Regions from separate parts of the Homo sapiens genome. Here region 1 is linked to region 2. Evidence: fine-mapped expression QTL. A gene starts in region 2. The other region holds a variant in brackets. All regions are shown on one strand. Distances are between the middles of the regions. Region 1 overlaps PRUNE2 (prune homolog 2 with BCH domain). Region 2 holds the start of PRUNE2 (prune homolog 2 with BCH domain).

The links. PIP is the estimated chance that this variant, and not a neighbour inherited with it, causes the effect.
Region 1: its variant is fine-mapped to the expression of PRUNE2 in whole blood (INTERVAL, PIP above 0.99).

What each region holds. Positions count from the first base shown.
Region 1 is chr9:76,700,989-76,706,368 of GRCh38, forward strand. It overlaps PRUNE2 (prune homolog 2 with BCH domain), which reads right to left. Exons shown (of 19, transcript NM_015225.3): 8 at 3,773-5,380; 9 at 2,349-3,111. Among named protein-coding and RNA genes, the nearest start is that of PCA3, 61 kb to the right of the region's middle. The variant A/C (reference allele first, on the strand shown) is at 3,146.
Region 2 is chr9:76,903,611-76,908,990 of GRCh38, forward strand. PRUNE2 (prune homolog 2 with BCH domain) reads right to left here and starts at 2,504. Exons shown (of 19, transcript NM_015225.3): 1 at 2,318-2,504. The coding sequence starts at 2,353. RefSeq lists a silencer at 2,574-2,633.

The DNA.
Region 1 (5,380 bases), 200 kb before region 2:
ACCTTTTTACTTATGTCTAACTCTTTAGTTAAACTGTAAACTCCTAGACGGCTGACAGTATGTTTTAAACCAGTGGTTCTCAAGCTTTGGAGGGCATCAGGAGTTGCTGAAGCTCAGCTGGCTGGGCCTCACCCCCAGAGTTCCTGATTCCGGAGGTCTGAGTCGGAGCCGATAATTTGCATTTCTAACAAGTACTCAGGTGATACTGATGCTGCTGTTCTTAGGACCCCACTTAGAGAACCACAGTTTTAGACAACTCTTTATTCTCCCAAAATCTAGCACAGAGGGAGACTTACACATTCACAGTAAATTATTTATGCAAAAGATAATACACATGCCGGAGGGAAAATCTGCCCCATCCCCATTGTGAGAAAAGTTTCAGTACTACAAAAGCTGAGCAGAAAGGGATGAGCAAAGAAATCTTGTTGAAAGAAAAGGTGCTGGTGGCACAATTGAACACTGACTGTCATCTGTTGGATCTCGGGGCATGTGCAAAATGCACACAAGAAGCCAAACAATAGCTCAGCCAACTCATGGCTGCCTGAGTTCTGAGCTCAATCTATAACAATGCCAGCAGGGCTGCTGGGATCCATCTGCTACTCTCTTTCTGATAACGGATCTGGGGTCTCTCTGGAAGAAAATAGCTTGACAGGAAGAAAGAAGGATTAGGCCAGCTGACAATGTCTGGATTTATGAAGCTGCCCTGGAATATGGTAGAGCTTTTAACCCCTTCTGCACTTGGCTAATCCTCAACATACCCCAGCTATTCTTTCCATTGTCCTTGTTCCTTTCATCAAGAAATGTAATTTGTGAATGCCAAAGCTCCCCTGGACACATTCTGTTTCCACACAAATTAAGTTCCCAGAATTTAATACTGCAGGAAGCCTTGAGATCTTTCAGCCCAACTCACTAATTTTACGCATGAGAAAACCTAAGCCTGGGATTAATCCTAAAATGTATAATCAGTCATGGTAGAGGCAGGCTGGAATCCAGATTCCTTGACTCACTGTGGGTATGTGATGTGTATAGTCCTTTACACTCCCAAGCTGAGTAGCAAAAATATATCTTTTCTCGCTTTTTTTTTTTTTTGAGACGGAGTCTGGCTCTGTCACTCAGGCTGGAGTGCAGTCACACGATCTCGGCTCACTGCAACCTCCACCTCCCAGGTTCAAGCAATTCTCCTGTCTCAGCCTCCCAAGTAGCTGGGATTACAGGTGCTGCCACCACCCCAGCTAAGTTTTGAATTTTTAGTAGAGACGGGGTTTCACCATGTTAGCCAGGGTGGTTTCAAACTCCTGACCTCAAGTGATCCACTCACCTTGGGCTCCCAAGGTGTTGGGATTACAGGTATGAACCACCGCACCTGGCCGATATCTTTTCTCTATTACATTTTAAGGAGAAAACATGACTTTCCCCGTTACTTAAGTTACTTTTCACAATTTGTTCTTTTGTCCCTGGAAGCAGGTGGGCTTCATAAACACAAATGAAGAGAAATGAAGAATGCTAAACAGTTTCAGCAGAGACTGGAAGCTTGAGGGCAGTGATGACATCCTATTCCCTGATATATGCCCATTGGCTACCCAGAACCACGGCACAGAGCAAGCTCTCAAAAACCACATGGTGAATGAATGAATGAATGAATCACTGATTTAATGACAGTTTGCCAATTTCTCTGCCAATTAGGGAATGAATGTGTTACACTGAGATTTGGAGACTGCTGTGGAGCCTGTCTCTTATCTAACTATAAGTTAGGTGCTTACATAAAACCAGAAAATGCCTTGTATTTGAAAATATGAAAATGCCTCTGTATGCTAAGCGGTGTGTCAACTGAGAAAGTACAGGCTTTGGAGGTGGCAAGCTTCGAATCCCAGGTGTTCACTCTGGTTACTTAATTCTAGGCAAATTATAGAAAATTTCTGAGCCTTGAATCCCCCTACTCAACCCTACTCCTTCCATTCCCCCCACTGGCATGTTAGGATTAAATGAGATAATGTATGCAAACTGCCTTGCACATAGTAGGTGCTGATTAAATGTTAGTGTCACTTCCTTGTATTCCCAACTGCCTGTTGAAGAGTCATGTAGGTATTCAAGTAGGTGGGGTGGCAGTTGGGGGGTAGGTATAAGACTGAATGAAAATTGAAGGGGCTTTTTGGCTGAAAATGTACATAAATTATCATTATGGTTATAGTTATCTAGTAGCTGCTTTTACTGATGGTGTGCCTTGCATTCAATATAAGCAAAGCTGCTATCATCCAGGTATTCCTCATATTCCATAACCTCTAACCATTTCCCAGGTTTCTAAATAAATTGCTTTTCAGGAAAAAAAATAAATCTAGCTTTTTGCTTACCCATTTGGTCTTGATATCCTGGTTCCGAGCTCAAGGAACTCTGTCTCCTCCTCCATTTCCGTGTCAGGGATCATGTTTTTCTGAACAGGCTGTGGTGAAAGCATTTCCCATTCATTGTCATGGGTGACAGCCTGCAACGTAACTGCATCCGGGCCAGCCCTGCCTCGGCTCTTACTCTTCTGTGATTGGCTGACTGGACCAGAGGCTTCCTCTAGTGCCAAAGATTCTAGAGGCTTCATTTCTTCCAGAATCTGCAGCTGGGGACCCTCACCCAAGCCGAGTTCAGAGAACGGCTCCACAGTCTTGCCAGACCACCCAGGCCCTGAGTCCCTGGCATCCAGTGATGGATCACCAACCTCACTATGGCCCAAGAACATCCAACTCTGGTCTTGTGCAGGGCTTTCAAAAGATGATCTCGTATCGCTTTTAGAAGACATTTTCTCTGCAGAGAGACCTTTTCTTTCATTTAAGGAGGCTGGCTGACATGTGTCTGGGAAGCTTGCTAACTGAGTTCCCTGCAGCCCTGTTTCTTTGGAACCTACATACAATTCTAATTCAGCTATGCTTTCTCTTTCTTCACAGGTCTCTGGCTTTGAGTGTGAATTTTCTTCACGGTTTACAAGTATGTAATCCATGTGTAGTGCATGACGATCTTCATTCTTCTCTGTACATCTTTCTTCCTTGTATTCTGATTTTATCTGCTCAGGCTCTTTGGTAGGAATTGTTTTTTCTTCTTCCAATTCTGATATTTCCTTGCTGGCACCTAGAAGTGGAAGTTGAAAGTGAGAAGAGGAGAA[A/C]AAGGTTTAATTAACACATTGTGTGATTTGTGATCCTTGCAAATGATCATCTAAAAGAGGTAATTTAATATTTTTTATATATTTTATTTATTTATTCATTCATTCATTTGAGACAGAGTCCCGCTCTGTCACCCAGGATAGAGTGCAATGGTGTGATCTCGGCTCACTGCAACCTCCACCTCCTGGTTTCAAGCTATTCTTCTGCCTCAGCCTCCCGAGTAGCTGGGACTACAGGCACCTGCCCCCACGCCCAGCTAATTTTTGTATTTTTAGTAGACATGGGGTTTCACCATGCTGCCCAGGCTGGTCTCGAACACCTGACATCAGGTGATCCCCCCTCCTTGGCCTCCCAAAGTGCTGAGATTACAGGCGTGAGCCACCGCGCCCAGCTAGAAAATATTTTTATTTTGTAGAGTCATTCGATTTTCTCGTGCACTATCAGGAATAGGTATTACATATGCACTAGATTTTACTGCTGTTATAATACAGGACTTAGTGAGGCATGCCTTGAAAATGTAGTTAGTTTTCTCTCTACCCTCATTGGTAGGAAGAGTGTGTCTTACAAATATGCACTAGTTTAATCAACGCAGCAGTTTCTTGGAAGTGGAAGAATGGAATGTTTCTTACCATTTGGTGGTCCTATGTCTCCACCTGCTGGTAAATCAGAATTATCTGTTTCTACTTCCCAGTCAACGTTTGATGGAGACAAAATGTTGGAGCCTGCTCCTACCGGCAAATAAACGGACTCAGGGTCTTCACGAATATGCAGCACAGCCAGCTGGGATCCAGGCAGTCTGTTTTTGGTCTCAGCCTGGTTTCCCTCACTTCTTCGATCAGGAAGTGCAGAAAGCACTATCTCTGCTGCTCTGCATCCCAGAGATTCATCCTCTGGAGACCCAGCTTCCTCTATTGTTTCAGCACTCTGGGCAGGTTCTGTGAGATAAGACAAATCAAAGGGAGGTGTGTACGGTGCCAGCGACTGCTTCAGAGAATCTTCCTCCAAAGGAGGGTCACCACCATACAGGAAGTGTTCAGGCTCTCTCAGTAAATCTTCATCGATATTCTGGCCCATTACATCATATTCAAAATCACCCCACGAGGCTTCAGATGAGCAGATATCTTGCTTCCCTAGGTCCCCATCAACTGGCGTTTCCGGATGGCCTTCGGATAATGTCAGTTTACTCATGTCATCTATTGTTCCCGTGGATGTGTTGAGACCTGAGGCATCGCTGAAACTGTGGTCAAAGGCAGCTTCGCTTATATCCAGACAAGTGTCTGAGGCTAGCAAAGCATCAGGAACCAAGGCAGGATTCTCTGTGGATAAATGTGGATCACCATCAAACAAAGCTCTTGCACCAGGCTGACTTTCAGGAGAAAAGCTGTCTGATATCCAAGAACCGTCACCTTCTGGAGTTGGCTCTTGGTGAGTTACAAAAATGCTAGTTGCCACATTTTCAATCCTTGGGATTCTTCTGTCAACTGGTTCCAAAATTGGTGCCATATCTGGGCTGGCTCCTTTTTCTGATACTTGTAAACCTGTACTGTTGTCACCGTTTATTTCAGAAGGTTCAGGTGAACCTTTATGAGAGGCGGGCTGAGAGGAGCCCTTTATGTCTGCTTGATAGCCAATTGGAGGCAGCACAGTTGCGTTTTCAGAATCGAGTTCTGCATTGGATGGGACAAACTCCCGTCCAGGCTCATAAATGGGTTCTTCATCTATCTCTGGCTCAGTGAGACAAAGCTCACTGGATTCCACTTCAGGTCCCATGCAAGCACTGAGGTGCTTCTCAGTCTCTTGCTTTGCTTCAGAATCGTGACATATATCAGGGCTGTCGGAAGCCTGAGAATTGCTGTCATGTTCGCAGTGCGTCAGGATATCAGGATTCTCACCATCTGCTTTCAAACTGAAGGGCTTCTTAGCATCTATCCACAAGTCAGGCGCGGCAGAGGCCAGCTGCCCACCCTCTTGAAAGTTGCCATGTAAAATATCTGGCACAAAGGTACCTCGGGAGTCCTCACTTGGGGTAGAGCCATCCCATTCAGAGCCTGGCTTCATTATCAGTTGGGTGGGAGAACTGACAGCAGGAAAATTTTCTGTGGCAATGCTTGAATTTGTCATCTCACCTAGGTATGATTTTTCTTGTTCCCACTGATTTGTTTCTTGACCTTCATTAGTTGAAACATTAGATGTAACACAACTATTTTCCTCTGCGTGAGTAAAGGCTGTGTCCGGAT
Region 2 (5,380 bases):
TGAGTCTCGCTCTGTTGCCCAGGCTGGAGTGCAGTGGCACAATCTCGACTCACTGCAACCTCCGCCTCCGAGGTTCAAGTGATTCTCCTGCCTCTGCCCCCCTAGTAGCTGGGATTACAGGCACACGCCACCATGCCTGGCTAACTTTTGTACTTTTAGTAGAGATGAGGTTTCACCATGTTGGCCAGGCTGGTTTCGAACTCCTGACCTCAGGTGATCCACCCGCCTCAGCCTCCCAAAGTGCTGGGATTACAGGCGTGAGCCACCACACCCGGCCAAATCTTACCTTTTTATTATAAATAAATTTCCCACAAGTGAATGACATTGACTTAATTCTTTTTCTCCAAGAAAAAGGTTATCTACCCTCTAAAGGAGAATGTTATCTACTACTATATTTGAGTGTCATACATTAAGTAAAAATCTTATTACCTAGAAAATGTAACTTCTCAGGAAAATATGACACTAAAAGTGACCAACACACCTTTGCTGTGGCTGGATGTGAAAGGTTAATCATGATTTCTAGAAGAAGCTTATTCCAAGAAACGATAAAATTAGCAGTAATTGTTCTGGCTAAGACATGAAACTGGTAACAATATTTCAAACAACCGCTTCTCTTTCCTGTCCTTTTTTTTTTAATGATGTAGAGCAATTGCTCGTCTAATGAAGGGTAAATAAATTACAGATTACTTTCAACTCATTACTCGGAAATAGGGAAACTTCCATTCCAGCAACTGCTCCTCAGAATTGAGACAAACCTCTTGCTCATATCAGACCCCACAGTCTAAATGTTTATTGTGAAAATATTGATAAATAAATGTTATGGGAGTGAAAAACAGATACAGCCCAGAACTCTGTGTTTGTCATTGATTACCATTTTCATACACACACACGCACAGTTGCCAAAATTGTCTTTCATTTTTGAACATTTCTCCTTCATTACTAGGTAAAGAACAGAACATGTACTTATACTATCAGAAATGCCAAATACTTACTTGAGTTTCTGAAATTAGTATTTTCATCCATGTGCTCTAGTAAAACTATAAAAGGGTCAATAAACACAGAGATGATCACAAACTTCCTCAACTCGGAAATCTCCACAAACGTTCAACTCTCTGGGAGGTTTCAGGTAGAAAGTTTTATATAAGCACTTATCAACTTTAATGGTCTTTTACAAGATAGTTACAGTTAGACCATTGTAAGGATCACACTTCCGTCTGCACTCTGAATGGTGGTTCAGGCATCTTTGGGCCCTCCCTTCCTGCACTCCCTTTGTTGTGCGAGGGTAAATGAGTTACAGTAATAACCCTGCAAATATCCTGCCTTGTGATTAAAACATTACCTTAATGCAGACTTTACATTTTGGCTTCTATGAAGGCTTAAAGGTTAAAGGCATCATAAATTATGCATTTCTTTCTATGCCAGGCCTGTAAAAGGTGCTTTTACAGTTCTTTAAAGATATTGCTTCTAAATGAGTACAGGCTTTTCTTTTTTTTTCTGCCAAAACAGAAACATTTCCATTATGTTTATTACTGCTGTGCTGGAGAGCCAAAACAGTTTGGAATTAAGAAACTGCTAGAGTCTGTTGTTTCAGAATGTGTAGCAACTGTTAACATACACAGTGGAGTTGCCCATTCACTGTTTGGACAGTGATATGGTAAACATGGGCTAACACACAGGTCTGCTCCCGGGAGAACGATGATCTGGTAAACTCCAGAACACCAACAGTTAGAGCTTTCCCCTTCTGCCTCCGCCCCAATTTACAGATGTGAACAGGAATTAGCGAGACACAAGACACACTAGAATATCCCTAACTCCTGCAGTGGAGCAAGCTCTATTCTGTGGATTCTCCAGTACCACACATGTCCTTGCTACCCAGCACCCTGACTTCCTCACTTTTGTCACCTCCAGCTGAAGTACAGTTCTAAGGGTCTCTTTTTTTCCTTTTACACTTACACGTAATGCATCTGCAGAAGGCTGGGCTCTTTATCTCAAGGAAGACCACACCCATTTATCCCTTAGCTTTCAGGAGCAAACTGCTGATTTAGGGACCGAAGCTGGACTGAAGCGACCCAACTTCAGCCAGGCCACAACCTCCTTCAGCTCTGCACCTCGTCTGGTTGCGGTGGAGGATTCTGGAGACAGATTGCCAGCTTTAAGAGCCAGAGTTCCTGAGATTTCTTCCAGGAGACAACCCGCACACCCTGATAACTCCGTGGCAAAGTTGTTTCTTCCTCCTCTGCTGCAACACCTTTTCCTCTCCACCTTTCCATTAGCATACGCGCGCGCGCACACACACAGCTTTGCTCACTCAACTTACCAGTTTAGATTTGGCGCGTTGCAAAAATTCTTCCATGTCGTGGCTAGGGGTTTGGAACCCGGGTACTCGGAGGGGCGCAGTGGAAAATCTCGGCCCAAGGAAGACGAGCGGGGTCCCGGGAAAGTGGCCCGCCGGGGCGCAGCGACCGACTGCTCCCTCCTGCCGCTCTGAGGCGGCTGCGGCGGAGGCTGTGCTTGCGCCCTCGACCGTCTCGCCCAGGGCTCCCCGCCCCACCCCTCGCCCGGCCGCCGGCTCTGGGCACCCGACTCTGCCCTAATAAGGAAAGTGGGTGTGCCGCCCAGGAGCCCCGGGGCGCGCCGGGCACGCTCTCTGGCACGCGCCTCGGGCGCCGTGGCGCGTGGGCGGAGGTGCAGGGGTATGGCGAGGGGCTCCTCCGCCAATCGCAGGGCCGTGCTGCGGCCTCCTGACGTGGCGCGCCGAAAGCTGCTGCAACCATGGACAGCGCCCAGAAGTGCGAGCCAAGTGCAAGGGGCTGCTGCAGAGGGAGGCTCTGCCGCAGGCACCGCCGCGGTCAGCGGGGGAAGGTGGGAAGAGGGAGACGGGTCCCAGGAGAGCCCCCGCCTCGCCCAGCGCCTCACTGGCTGGCTGGCGCGTTACGGAGCACTCCGGCGGTCACTTAATGATCTGGTCGGCTGGCCTGGCCGGGGGAGGCACTCAGCTAGATTGGCGTGGGAGGGACGAGGAGAGAAAGAGGGGAGTTACTGCTGAGCTAAAAGCAGTACGACCTTGATGGATAATAATCAGAAGAGCAGGCTAGGAGGTTGGGCGAGGCTGCGTCTTTCCTCCCTACCATGAAAACATGTCCACACAACAATGGGCATCCACAGTTCACCCCAACTAGGTGCCCTTATGTCAGCCCTGGGACTAATGCATAGATACATCCTTCTGCAGTTCCCATCCACTGACATGTACCCTCAGGGAAAGCTGGGGCAATAGAACCTTGCTAAGGTGAGGTGCAGTCTGCAGACCGGCAACATCAGCATCGCTGATCTTATAGAAATGCAGAACCTCAGTCCCCTGCTCCTACTTACCAAATCAGAATCTGTGTGTTTCTATGAGACCCTCAGATGATTTCTATGCTTGTTAAAGTTTAAGAAGTACTACAATGAACAAATGAACTTATATCTACAAACCTTATTTTAAATCATGGGGTTTTGTTGTATGTAGCCTTGTCCGGTCCCCAAACACACTACATCAGGCTTTCTCTGACCTCTGGGCTTTTGCACACCACCTGTAAGATCCTTCCAGCCCTTGTCCTAGCCCCCAGCCTCAGCTGTTCTACAGAAGTAGCCTCAACCCTGACTGCACAGTAAAATCACATCGTAATCACCTGAGACTTGAGAAAGTACTGATACCAGGGCTTTATCCCAGTCCAATTAAATTAATATCTCTGGGCATGGGGCCACAGCATTTCTGTGGAAAGTGACCCAAGTGATTCTAATGTGCAGTTCAGGTGTGATGCTCTGATTCTCGATGAACTTTACATGTATCTAAATCACTTAGAGGGCTTGATGAAACACAGATTTCCGTGCCCCATCCTTAGAATTTTAGCCCTAATAGGTGTGGCTTAATGGGCCTGAGAATGTCCATGTATACAATCTCCCAGGGTTTGCCGATGCTGCTGATCCAAAAACCACACTTTGACAGTGAGTGGCGTAGAAGTTCTCTTTCTCCAGAAAGCCTCCCCAACACACTTTTCCCTTCCCATCCCCAGACTGAGTTGGTTGCCCCTTCTGTATTCCCTCATAGCAACTTACATTTTCCACTCTGCTATAAATTGCATAATTATTTGTCTATGTCCTCCACCAGGCTGTGAGCTCTGTAAAGACAGGGACCTTGCCTGTCTCATTCACTGATGGAACCCTAACATGATGTATGTTCATGTCATATACAGGTCCTCAATAAATATGTTTTAATGAAAAAAGGTACATATGGAAGGGTTTTTTTTTTTTTTGCTCTATTTCTCCTGTCTCAATGTGTGTCTGTTTTCTTGTCTGTCTCTGTGTGTATATGTGTGTCTCATGATCCAATTATTTTTTATTCAGAAGGATCCAATGAAAACAAATCAGCAGGGTCCACAGATCTGATTAAAGGAGAGTGATAAGAATATTAAGCTCCAGGTGACATTCAGGGGTGGGCTTTGTGGAAGCTGGAGATTCTGTCTGCTTTCTGTACTGACTTAAGTAATTTAAAACCAACCAGGTAAAGCAAGTATTTTGTCAGCCTTTAAATCTGTGAAGTTGCACACAATTCAAGTAACATTACTGAGAAAAATTCTAGAGAATGCCTTGCCTCTGACTTCACTGGGGAATTTAGCACCAATTACATAATACTGTTTTATTCCTCTAGCTTTGGCTTATAAATATTCTAGGTAGGTATCACACATCCTTGAAATGTTAAAAAAAAATTCTGATGGACTCAAATTCCAACATCAATCTCCCCATCTTTTTCTCCACCAATAATGTCCCTTCAAAAGTTTATCAAAATTAACATTTTCTATGAAACCTTCCTAAGCTGACCACCTATATTAGCTTCCTGGGGCTGTTTTAACAGAATCTCACAAATTCAGTGGCTTGAAACAACATAAATGTATTACCTTACAGTTATGTAGGTCAAAAGTCCTACACAGGTCTCATTGGGCAAGCAAGGTATCAACAGAGCTACATTCTTTTTTAGAGGCTCTAGGGGACAATCGACTAGAAGCTGCCCATGTTTTTTGACTTGTGGCATCTTCCTCCATCTGTTTTTTTCTTTCTTTCTTTCTTTCTTTTTTTTCGAGATGGAGTTTCCCTCTAGTACCCCAGGCTGGAGTGGAATGGCACAACCTGGGTTCACTGCAACCCCTGCCTCCCGGGTTCAAGCTATTCTCCTGCCTCAGCCTCTCGAGTAGCTGGGATTACAGATGCGCACCACCATGCCCAGCTAATTTTTGTATTTTTAGTAGAGACAGGTTTCACCATGTTGGCCAGGCTGGTCTGGAACTCCAGACCTCAAGTGATCTGCCCGCCTCGGCCTCTCAAAGTGCTAGGATTACAGGCATGA